Regions from separate parts of the Homo sapiens genome. Here region 2 is linked to region 1. Evidence: fine-mapped expression QTL. A gene starts in region 1. The other region holds a variant in brackets. All regions are shown on one strand. Distances are between the middles of the regions. Region 1 holds the start of TCF7L2 (transcription factor 7 like 2). Region 2 has its middle 42 kb from the start of LINC02935.

What was found. PIP is the estimated chance that this variant, and not a neighbour inherited with it, causes the effect. A credible set is the group of variants that fine-mapping cannot tell apart.
Region 2: its variant is the best candidate, but not a certain one, in a credible set for the expression of TCF7L2 in esophagus mucosa (GTEx, PIP 0.52).

What each region holds. Positions count from the first base shown.
Region 1 is chr10:112,948,438-112,951,346 of GRCh38, reverse strand. It overlaps TCF7L2 (transcription factor 7 like 2), which reads right to left and starts at 1,100. Exons shown (of 15, transcript NM_001367943.1): 1 at 402-1,100; 2 at 74-140. The coding sequence starts at 590. LOC124902502 (a long non-coding RNA gene) reads left to right here. Exons shown (of 2, transcript XR_007062291.1): 2 at 340-718.
Region 2 is chr10:112,847,958-112,850,866 of GRCh38, reverse strand. It overlaps a transcript of VTI1A not described here. Among named protein-coding and RNA genes, the nearest start is that of LINC02935, 42 kb to the left of the region's middle. The variant T/G (reference allele first, on the strand shown) is at 1,563.

The DNA of each region.
Region 1 (2,909 bases):
GGGCCGGGGCGCGCGGGGCGGCCGGCCCGGGGGGCGGCTCCGGGCGGCTGCGGGGCGCGCGGGGCGTACTCACCTTCTTCCAAACTTTCCCGGGATTTGTCTCGGAAACTTTCGGAGCGAGGCGGAGGCCGTCTTTCCGCCTTCCCAGAGGGGTGGAGGTGGGGAGGGCGAGGGGCAAACGCCACGCAGAAGGGGGAGAAGGGGGAGAAAAAGAATCGGCGAGGTCGAGGGGGGGGTAGAAAAAAACAGGGTTACAAGTTTTTGCAATGGTGGCACCGTACGCACACGCCGCCCGCCGGGCCCCGCCGCCGCCCCCAGCCCCGATTTCTCCCCTTTCAGCAACATTTGCCAAGCCCAGGAAACAGATAAAAAACCCCACCAGCCCGAGGGGCTTTTCCTACCTCGGAATCGGAGGAGCTGTTTTGATTCGTTTCTGATTCATTGACTAGAGACGATTTGACATCAGCTAAATCCCTCTCTGCCGAGGAGTTTTCGGAGCTCTTCTCCTCCTGTTCGCCCTCGTCTTTGAAGGAAATCAGTTCGTCGTTGGCGCCTAGGTCATCCCCTCCACCGCCGTTCAGCTGCGGCATTTTTTTTTCACCCACCAGCAGCAATTTTGGAAGAAAAATGAAGGAGGAAGAAAAGCCAAAAAAAATCACCCCCAAAAAGTTTTGCCCCCCCAAAAAATATTGCAAGAAAAAGACGAGTCCAAGGTGAACTTTTTTCTGCTTGGGGGTCTTTTTCTCCTGGGGAGGGGAAAAGAGGGAGGAGGGGAGGGGAAGGGGGGGGAGATCTTCTGCACGCGTGAGTTTGGGTTTCTTTTTTCTCTCGTTCCCAAGGATCCGATCAATGTGCAAAAAAATAATAAATAAAAAAGGGGGGTAAAAAAAAAAAAAACACCAACAACAACAAGAAGTCAGATATAAAGAGCAAAGGGGGGGGGAAGCCGAAGATACAGGAGGTGCTCGTGCCGCTCGGATTTGAGTGAGTTGAAGTTAGACTGAGAGCTTTTCAGTTCAAAGGCGGCGCTGATTGACAGATAGAAAAAGGGGGATCGAAATCCGGAGGAACGGAGTAGTCTGGGAGCGGAGATTATTGACAGGGCGAGAGGAACACACTGCCTTAATGAGATGCCGGAGGGCGGGGCCGGCCCAGTGACGTGTGCATAAATAAACAGCCGGGGTGGGCGGGGCGGGGGCGGCTAACAATGATCCTTTCGGGCGCCGGGAGAGGGAGGAGGGAAAGAAGGAGGAAGAGAGGGGCGGGGAAGCCGGGGGGAGACGGAGGGAGGAGTGTGCAGGGGGAGCGGCCTGCGCGGAGTGTGTGCGAGCCCGGGATTCTGGGCGAGGGTGCAGGGACTTGCTCCGGGAGGGGGCGGTTTCAGAAAGACAATGCGGGGTGGGAGAGGAGGAGAAGGGGGTGGCGACCAAGTCAGGAATCCGAGCCGAGGAAGGCGGAAGGAAAGCCCACTTGGGGGGCGGGGATGGGGAGAGGCCCAAAACAGTGCACTTTAGAAATATTAGAAATAAGTCTTAAGGGAGGGGGAAAAGGAAGGGTAGTATTTGAGAAAGTGGTGGCTGGGGGAGGGGGTGGGGGGGTGCTTGGTGGTTAATTCAGCAGTGAAATCAGCCACCCTTAGACGGGATGCGACAAAAGTGGTCAAAAGGAAAGATCAACCCTCCACTTTCAGAGAGCTTGGGGAAGTGAAGGGGCTGGTCAAAGTTCCTGGTCATCTACAATGAAAGAAACTATTAACCCATGAGGCCTCCCTCCTCCCTTTTTTGTTTATTAGTAGTGAATCATTTCATGAAATGTTAAGTCCCACTAGGATGGATATGCCAAAACGACTTTTTATGCAAAAAACAAATGCTAAATGTCAGAAACATTAAAAGTATCCTTAAGGAAAAATATATGATTCTTTTAAATGTAGAGTGGTGTTTTGCTTTTTTTTTTTTTTTTTTAACTGACGTTGGAGGTAGTAGGAAATGAGCTAGAGTCAAAGTCCTTTTTGACTTAGGAGGTGAAAAGTTTGGGCGTTAACACCGTCAGGGAAAATAAAACTGAAAGTTCACCAACCCCTGGGATCAGTTGGGCTACAGTGTTTCTCGAAGGGGGTCTGAAATGAAATCCCCGAAAGACTGACCAAAATAATCAAGATGTAGGTGGCTCTGGCAGGAAATTGCTAACCAAACCGATGCTAGAAGACCTTCGGGAGAAGATGGGAAACCTGGGGCTTGAGGCAGGTATTTGTTGACTTTTAGGTATTAGAGGAGGAGCAGACTGATTTGCTACAAAATGGGGAATGGAATTATGTTAAAGAGGAAAGACCCAGCTCCCAAAACACAATGTTCCTGGGTGATAGAGCAAGAAAATTCATTTTTGCAAATACCCAGTAAGAAGTAGACTGGACACTACAACATGAAAAAGAGAAAAAAGAAAAAAATAAATCAGTAGGATTTAGCAAATTGCCTCTTAGGAGTAGTATTAGTCTAGAGTCCAGGATGTACTGTTGTCCCACCCTTCCCTGAAAAAGCTCACCTGCACTTCAGCTGGCCCATCAGCACCGAGGTTTCCAAAAGAAAGCAAATTTGCCATGTAATATTTAGAGAGTTTGGGGTTTCAGCAAAACTGTTTTATAGGCTAAAGTCTCAGAAAGACTACTAAAAATAATGATACCGAGATTGACAAGGCCAACGAATTCCCCTGCACTGGAAAAAAATCACAACCACATTTGCACACTAAAGAATAAGATGCAGGCAAAATAAAAATGGGTTGGGGGGGAGGCAGAGGAGAATCACTGTAACTCCCAACTTTGATATTAATCAGAATATCAGAAGTAGAGTGAGAAGGAGCCTGAAAAGAAGTAAAACAAATGTGTACATTTAATCAGACAGGATTGCATAGGATAC
Region 2 (2,909 bases), 100 kb after region 1:
AAATCAGGGTCGGCTTCATGGACATGCCACCTGCACAGTTGCACAGGGCCCTGTGCCAAGAAGGCGCTGGTGTTGCTATCTTCAAAGTTTTAGTTGTTTTTGAACAAAGGGCCCCACGTTTTTATTTTGCACTTGGCTGCCCAAATTATGTAGCTGGTCTTTTGTGACACTTATATGATTTGGGGGGCCCTCATTTTAAAAACAACACAAAATAAGAGAAATAAAATTAAGTTCCAAGTCTTGGAAGAGGTACCTAGGAACAGAAGGTGCTCTGCAGAAACTTAAGTTTCATTAACTTCACAGAAAATCTGCTTCTGGTTGGGGAAGGAGTGACCTCCACAGTAGTCTTCAAATTGTGGTCTTGGGAGTCTTGGGGGTTTAGTGAATGGGGTGTCAGGTGGACCTCTCTTTGCTCCCCCTCACCCTCTTCTTTACCCTTTACTTTAACCTAATTTCACTTTGTTCTGAATTAGAAATTGAGCTTCAGGCTGTTTCTTTTTTTTTTTTTCCTTTAAAGGTGCCATGACTCACATAGTTCGAAAACCACTAGTTAGACAAACCACATCACACCAGGCTTTTTGTTGTAGGGAATTGTCTTATTTCAGAAGGCCCCAGGTGACCCGCTGACCTGGGGTGTCTCCAAAGCCAGGTAATAATAGGCCGTGCTCTAATCTAAGGAGACTTTGCTGTATTTGCAGAGAGCTTTGAAATGTTCTGGGAAAAACGCTGATCAGATGTGCAAGGTATTATATTCACGGAGAGAAAAACCCTCCCAACTCTTTATAAAATGGATTAAGCTAGTTTCTAAAGGCTGCAGGTTTGTGTGATCTTAATCCCACTCCTTACTCCTGATCCACCACCTTCCTCTTTTGTTTCCAGGATGTGCACCTTCCTGGGTGAGGGCCGGGACGCCTTCCGGGGGAGCCCTACCCCTTCCCAGCTCTCCCCTTAGGAAGAACTAAGGGACACCCTCGCCCTTGCACCCACCTCGCCAGGGCTGCCTTTTTCTGTGGGCACATTTCACATTCACAGGCTCTGATCCGATGGAGGGAAATCTGAACAAAATATGGTAATGATGCCATTGTGCATTCAGCGACTCAGACTGGAGCAGCAGATGGGAAAAGTTGCGGATCACAACCCCATGCAATATTTGACAGAATATCAGTCAAATATAGTTCACCCAGATCCATGTTTCTGTCAGTCCCTCTTGGCTAGAGTTAATTTAAAGTGACAAGAATGACATTAGCTCTTTTCAGAGGGGTAATTCCTTCCTCAGGGCTGCCCCCTCCAATGGATACCCAGGCAGAGCCCTCCATCATCGAAAGGCGGGTTTTCTAAGAAGGGACCAGCCCTAGACCAGGAGTCACCATTCAAGACCTGTGCTGGTCAGTGTGCTGGAGGTTCAGTCTATTTCACTGTGGAGGAAGGAGCGAGGTTGCCCCAGGCTCCAGCTCCCTAGAGGGGTCGTCTCCACAAATGGGGTTTCAGGACTTGTAACCTTACCTCAGGGCTCAGGCAGAGAGAGCCCCACTGCGGGATGAATGCCCATGTGTGAAGACAAT[T/G]TAGAAACATCTCCAGCAGGTGGAGGGCTCTGAGCTGGCACTGCCACCACTTGGAGTCTTAACAGTTGCAGATGAACAGCTTAGCATGTGTTGTTTTCCATTTGTTCTTCCTTGGTTCCTTCTGTCTTGCTACACCATGTACAAAAACTCACATAGTGTTGATAACTTTTGTAACTGGTCGATTCCACCAGCACTTGTGCCTTCTAAGGCTGCTTCCTGCCAAGACCTCAGTGGGTGTCATGACCTCCAAAGTTGGTCATGGGTCCAGAAGCTGGCCTCACCCCACCATCAGATCAATATGTGTGCATGTTGGGAACTGCATGTAGAAAGTTGGCTTTGCTCCTCTGTTTTTAAACCAGGTAGACCCACCCACAAATCATGGCTACCAACCATGAAAGATGACCCCCTACCCTTTATGGCTAGTGAACTCCTATTTGCCCTTCAAAATCCATCTCAATGGTCACCTCCTCCTGGGGGCCTTCCTGAATACCCCCAGAAATTATCATTCCCTTCCTCCTCAGGGCAGTCTCTGGGCTCCGTATGTACTTCTGTTTCTACACTATCAAAAGGCATCATAATCACTTTTTTGCTTCTCTGGCTTCCCTTTCTGGTTGTGGTCATCAAGAATTAACAAGTGTTTGCTGGACTGAATAATTGAATTGTTTCTTGAATAAGGTAATAGGCCAGGAGACCTTATCCACAGAAAACGTATGGTTTCCTGTAACTGCCATGATCTGTGTCTCCAGCCTGTGATATTAAATATGATCACTTCTGTTGTTTCTCATGAGACTCCCCATTTGCTGGAAGTCTCTCTTGAGGTTTCTCTGCTCTCCAAGGTCTGACCAGGGTCATTTGCCAGGGACTGTGTCATCAGGTCATCTGTAACTGACAGCAGGGGTGGGGTTCTGTGTCTGGAATTGCCCTAGTCATCGTTGCCTATCCCTTAATGGGTCCAGCTCAAGGGCTCCTCATCAAAGGAGGAGATTGAAGACCAATGGCATCTCCAGTCTGGGGCCCAGAAATGGCTAGTTAATTAATTACACCTGGCCACACAAAGAACTGGTTGGGCAGGTGATCCCAGCACTGCTGCCAGTTACAGAACTACAAGCAACTGACAAGGAGGGGATTGGGAGAGCTGGCCAAGAAGCTGGGAAGAGCCTGTTGAAACAAAAAGACAAGACCTAAAGTCTCATGATGGCGGTTGTGTCTGGGAATGTTTCAATTAGCTATTGTTGTGTAAAAAACTACCCCCAAATCTTAGTTGCCTAAAACAACAGTTTATTATTTTTTTTCTCATGATTCAGCATTTTGGATTGGGCTTAGCTGGGTGGTTCTTCCGCTCTATCT